2 separate regions of the Homo sapiens genome follow, and region 2 is linked to region 1. Evidence: fine-mapped expression QTL. A gene starts in region 1. The other region holds a variant in brackets. All regions are shown on one strand. Distances are between the middles of the regions. Region 1 holds the start of KDM6B (lysine demethylase 6B). Region 2 has its middle 14 kb from the start of CHD3.

Region 1 (2,906 bases):
CGCCCAGCCCACCTGGGAGTGTGGGGCGCCAGCTGGGGGGAGGTGGGGAACAGGTAGTCGGCCCTCCCGAGCCAGGCTGGGCATTATGGTCGCGACCGGCGAAACGGTGCAGACCGACCGAGACGTGTGGGTCCCCAGGGGCTGAAGAGCGCAGCCTCAGGCGGCTTTACACAGACTCCACGAGGGGAGGGGGGCGCCCGGCTCGCCGCGCAGGCGCAAGGGGGTGCTCGGGCGCGTGCGGCGCAGGGCGGGGGGTGGGCGCGAGCGTGTGGGAGTGCACGTGCGGGTCCCAGGCAGCTGCTGCCTCCCAGCCTCCGCCGCTGCCCCTCCCCTCTCCCTTTCCTGTCGCTATCATCCCCCTTCCCCATTGGCTGCCAGGGCCCTGACGTCAGGGCCGACCGCTGGAGCGGATTGGGCGGACGGGAGAGTTCGGGAATCCGGCTCCCAAGTCTCGCCCTCCAGTTACTCTGGCAACAGGACAAGCAACCCAGGGGAGGGAAGGGGAGCCGAGGTCAACGCTGCGCCTCGGTCCCTAACCCCCTCCGGACAACCACCGAGTCCCCTTCGGTCGCGGCGCAGCTCGCTACCTCCCCGCCTTCCTCCCAGGGCTCTTCCTGTCCCGGGAACCAGGCGTCCTGCCCTCGGCCTTCCCCACAGTCTTCAGGCCCTCCGCTGTCTCTAACCCCCACCAGTGTCACAACATAAGCTGCAGCAAACAGGAAGCGAATCTACGTCGCTTAGCAACCACCCCGCGTGCCCCCCTCCCCACTATTTACCCCAGCCGGGAGAGGCGGAGATTGAGTCCCCAGCCCCCTCCCCGTCTTCTGCGCTGCGACCTCCTGCCCACAATTTCCTGTGAGGGGGCCCAGATCACAGGAAGTCAAGTGGGGGCCTCAGCCTACCTTTCCCTCGGACCGGGGCGGGGGGCTTCAGCTACTTTCACGGTCACATCCCCCACCTGCCCTGGGTGCGTCTCGCCCTCGCCATCTTGTGGCTACGTTGGGAAGGCTCCGCACCGAGAAGCCGTGCGGGGCGCGCTAGGGTTCGGGAACGGCGGAGTGGGAGAAGGACTAGGGATGAGGAGGCTAGCGGGGCGAGACGGAGTGAAAGGGAGGCGCAGGGGGGTGGTGGGAAGAAGGCGAAGGCTACCGCTGGGAAGCTCTCGGGGCCGCTGGTGGGAAGGTCAGGCTGAGGCTTCTACACCTCACCCGTGCAGAGAACTGGAGGGAGACTTAAAGTAGTCCTGGGACCGGGACACACCCAAGTCTGACCACATCTGACCTTACTGGGCCATGGCATTGACCTGTCTGCAAACTCTGCCCTTTAGTCCTGCCCTTCAGTAAGGACCGCCGCGCCCCGCCCCGCCCCGCCCTGGAGTCGGGAAGGGGAATCCCAGCCCAAGGGGAACGGGGAGTCCTTTCAGGCCCCTCTGGACATTTGGAACCTGAGACATCTGCCTCCCAGTTCTTCCTCCTTCCCCGCCGTTCTCTCTTCTAGGGGACCCATGACCTCCGCCCCAGTCTTCTTCCCAGTGCCCTTCCCAAGACCCAAACGTCCATCCCCAGCTCTACCCCTCCAGAGACTCAGGCGTCCTGCCCTGCTGCAAGGAGAGGGTTTCCCTCTTTACAGACGTCCTCGCGGCTCCCCGTTACCTGGTTCTGGGGGGGGTCCCAGGTGTTCAGGCTCCCCAAGGTATCCCAGGGGGTCGAGCGGCCCCCCCTTCTCCCAGGCCGGGGCTGGGGGGGCCGCTCCGCCCAGTGGCGCAGTTGGATTTTCCAACACAAACACCCGCACCCCCGCTCCCCAGCCCCGCCCCCTTGTGGTCCCGCCCCTCCTCGCGCTCTAGTCCCCCTCTCCGGCTCCGCCCCGTCTTCTGCCGGTCCCGCTCGCCTCAGGGCGGGTGCCGGCTAGGATGCCGGGTGCGGGGTGCGGGCTTCAGGGTGCGGGCCTCAGGGTGCAGTGTACGGGGTTCAGCCCTGATCCCTGCCTGACAAATCCCTACTCATTTGGATCACGCGCCCTTCTAAGGTAAGCCCCGCCCCACCCACTGAAGTCCTGCCCGGAGACTTAAGCCACAGCCTCTTCAGGCGGCTCCGCCCTGCCCATTCGTTCAGGGCCACGCCTCCGTTCCGCTCCAGGCCGCCCCACCTCCCTCGCTTCTTTCCCCGTCCAGTAGCAGCTCCGCAGTAGCTCTGTCCTCCGTGAGGCCTGGGCTTCCTCCCTCCCCAGACCCTCACCATTGCATTGAGAGACTTAAGGCTTGTTGTCGCGGGTGTTTTACAGCACTGAGCTCCAATACAACTCTTTCACTTTTATGGCTAACACAACTAGGTATCTCCAGGGCCACATCACACAAATTCGGCCAAGGTCAAAGTCTGAGTGAGGTCCGGCCTCAGTCCTAGGTGCAACATCTGTCTTAGCTCCTGGAGTCCCTGACCCTCTCTCTCAAGCGGAGAAGAGGAGGAGGTCTCAGCTGTCCAGGCTCATGAGTAGAGCAGTGCCCCTCTTGATCCAATGATCAGGTGTCATGGCCCCAGACCGCAGGTCAATGCCGATGACAAAGGAGGCTCGGTCTGAGCTGCCTGCCCGGTTGGGATAGTAATAGCAGGGGCAGGAGTACATGCCTGGGGGAAAGGAGAGGAGAAGTCAGACCCCTGGAGCCTCCGGGAGAGCAGGGCAGGAGCAGGGCAGGAGCGGGTGTGGGATGGGCTGGAGCAGAGAATGGGTTAAGTTCCAAACTAGGGACGGGGCAGGCAGGTCCTGCCTGGGGAGCTGTCCCACCCTTGGCGCTCTTCTTGCGGCTCTCTGCAGGCCGGAAGTGGATCGTGGGCATGAGGCAGACAAGCTGCATGGGCTCTGCCTCCACCAAGCAGGAGTTCTTCCGGTCCCAGCCAGCACCTTCCAGG
Region 2 (2,906 bases), 40 kb before region 1:
TGGTAAGTTCATGATAGGTTATAGTAGGAGTTAGTACCTCTTTAAAGGGTAAGAATTTTAGTATATCAAGTGAAGAGTAGAGGTCAGAACCTTGGGGGAACTTTGAAGGATGGAGTAGCCAAAGAAAAACAAGTTGTTCAAGTGTTAAGTGTACCAGGTAGTGTTGTTATGGTAGAGTAGGCAGACAGCTTCAGAAGGAAGGCATGATCATTGATACTAGATGCTTCGTGGGAATCAAGAAGAGTACAAACTGACAGTTCCTCAAAAAGTTAAATATAGAGCTACCATATGACCTTGCAATTTCAATACTAAGTGTACACCCAAGATAATTGAATCATATGTCCACACATAAAGTTGTGCATGAATATTCATAGAAGCATTATTCATAATAGCCAAAAAGTGTAAACAAAAATATCCATCAACTGATGAATGGATAAATATAGTATATCCATACAATGGAATATTATTCAGCCGTAAAAAGGAATGGAATACTGATACATGCTATAAGATGGATGAACTTTGAAAACATTATGCTAAGTAAGAGAAGTTAGACATAAAAGGCCACATATTATTTGATGCCATTTATATGAAATGTCCAGAATAGGCAACTAGTAGATCTGTGGTTGTGCAGGTTTCAGGGAAGGGAAGAATGGGAGGGACTGCTAATGGATATGGGGTTTCTTTTGGGGGTGATGGAAATGTCTGGAATTCTGGATAATGGTGATAGTTGCACAGCCTTGTGAATATACTAAAAACCCCTGAATTCACTTTAAAATGGTGAATAAGGTATATTAATTCTATCTGAATTTCTTTTTAATACAAACCAGCCAATACAGTGACTCACACCTGTAATCCCAGTGCACTTTGGGAGGCCAAGAGAGGAGGATCGCTTGAGGCCAGGAGTTTAAGACCAGCCTGAGCAACATAGCAAGACTATCTCTACAAAAAAAGTTTAAAAATTAGCCAGGCATGGTGGCTCATGCCTGTAGTCCTACCTACTCAGGAAACTGAAGCAGGAGGAGAGCTCAGCCCAGGAGCTGGAGCCTGCAGTGAGCTATGATTACACCACTGCACTGCAGCCTGGGCAACACAGTGAGACTCTGTCTCTAAAAAAAAAACAGTACAAACCAAGAAAAGTATTGTACTTGTCATTTGGTCACCTTTAAAGCCAGTTTTAGTGAGGAAGTTAAATATCAATTAAAGATTGTGAGAAACCATTAAAATATTACTTATGGAGGGTTTTTTGTTTTGTT[T/A]TGTTTTGTTTTAGAGACAGGGTCTTGCTTTGTCACCCAGGCTGGAGTGCAGTGGCGTGATCACAGCTCACTGCAGCCTCGAACTCCTAGGCTCAAGCTTTCCTCCTCCCTCATCCTCCCAAGTAGCTGGACTACAGGCACACACCACCACAACCGGATAGTTTTAAAATTTTTTGTAGAGATGGGATCTCGCTGTGTCGTTCAAATTGGTCTTAAACTCTTGGCCTCAAGCGATCCTCCCACCAGTGGCCTTCTGAAGTGTTGGGATTACAGGTGTGAGCCACCACACCCGACCTAATTTTTTTTTTTTTTTTTTTTTTTTGAGATGGAGTTTTGCTCTTATTGCCGAGGCTGGAGTGCAGTGGCACAATCTTGGTTCACTGCAACCTCCACCTCCTGGTTCAAGCGATTCTCCTGCCTCAGCCTCCTAGGTAGCTAGGATTACAGGCGCCCGCCACCACACCCAGCTAATTTTTGTATTTTTAGTAGAGATGGGGTTTCACCATGTTGGCCAGGCTGGTCTCAAACTCCTGACCTCAAGTGATCCACCCACCTTGGCCTCCCAAAGTGCTGGGATTACAGGTGTGAGCCACTGCACCTGGCTAATTCTTTATCTCTACTGTTGCCTCCAGATTCCCTCATCTTGTGTAAGAAGCCCCTATTTCTTTAAGGCTGCAGCAGTCTTGCTGTGTGCTCCTTACCTTCTCTTCCTCAGTGTTTTCTACTTATCTCCTGACATTTCCTTCATTCATTGAAGACTGACATCTGGCTTAGTCCTGCCATCATCTTGGGTGACCTTAGGATCCACATGAATGATCTATTCATCACCCAGACTTTTTGGTCCCTTGATCCCCTTATTTCCAGAGACCTTTCTAGCCATCCCACTTCTGGCCCCATCTCTGGACTTCCTTTTGAAGTATTAAATTCAAACCCCCAACTTGGGCCACAACTTTCTATCCTTCTAGCCCCCTCATTTACTTCTACTCTGTTCTTGGACCCACCATGAGACAATGTAGTCCCTTAGCTCCTCATTTTCTCCTAATCAGCTATACCATCTTCACCTCTTTTCCTATCCAGCTTAAGTTCCATGGTCTATCATTTTAACCATGCTCCTGCCACTGTCTTGGTGCCCTCTTCTTATTTTCCTTCCTGCAAACCCCTGGCCTTGTATCACTTTGGTTGCTTGTTTACACCCAGGATGCAAAGGGCTGCTGAAGAAAACACCATGACCATTCAGACCAGTGTTTCTGTTCAGGAATCCTTTTTCCTAGTCAGCTTTCTTTTAGTTCTCCACAGTGACTTCCTCAAAACCTTCTCCTTACACTAGTTCATTTTAAAGAAAAGGATACCTATGTTCATTTTAATATCATAATGGATAGAAAATCTTATCTACTTCCAGGAGATAGATTATCATATGAGAACTCCCTTGAAATTCCAATACTCAACTACATGTTTAACTCTATCCATATTTGTCCTTTTATCCTGTCCTCCTGTCCTGTCTGAAGCTAATGCCTATACTTGGGCTCTTAGTCTCACCCCTGCCACCTTCTCAGGGACTAATGGTTAGCAGCGATCCTCTAACTCAGTCCTTTATTTCCGATTCCACTTGCTCTTTCCCAGTCACATTAAAATGTGCTCAAATCTCCTTATCTT

What was found. PIP is the estimated chance that this variant, and not a neighbour inherited with it, causes the effect.
Region 2: its variant is the best candidate, but not a certain one, in a credible set for the expression of KDM6B in whole blood (INTERVAL, PIP 0.55).

Annotation. Positions count from the first base shown.
Region 1 is chr17:7,833,097-7,836,002 of GRCh38, reverse strand. It overlaps KDM6B (lysine demethylase 6B), which reads right to left and starts at 1,786. Exons shown (of 24, transcript NM_001348716.2): 1 at 1,653-1,786. It overlaps DNAH2 (dynein axonemal heavy chain 2), which reads right to left. Exons shown (of 86, transcript NM_020877.5): 85 at 2,782-2,906; 86 at 2,261-2,624. The coding sequence ends at 2,470. LOC124904106 (translation initiation factor IF-2) reads left to right here. Exons shown (of 4, transcript XM_047437265.1): 4 at 1-595. The coding sequence ends at 386. RefSeq lists silencers at 1-404, 1,655-1,814 and enhancers at 953-1,452, 2,083-2,694.
Region 2 is chr17:7,873,555-7,876,460 of GRCh38, reverse strand. It overlaps a transcript of NAA38 not described here. Among named protein-coding and RNA genes, the nearest start is that of CHD3, 14 kb to the left of the region's middle. The variant T/A (reference allele first, on the strand shown) is at 1,254.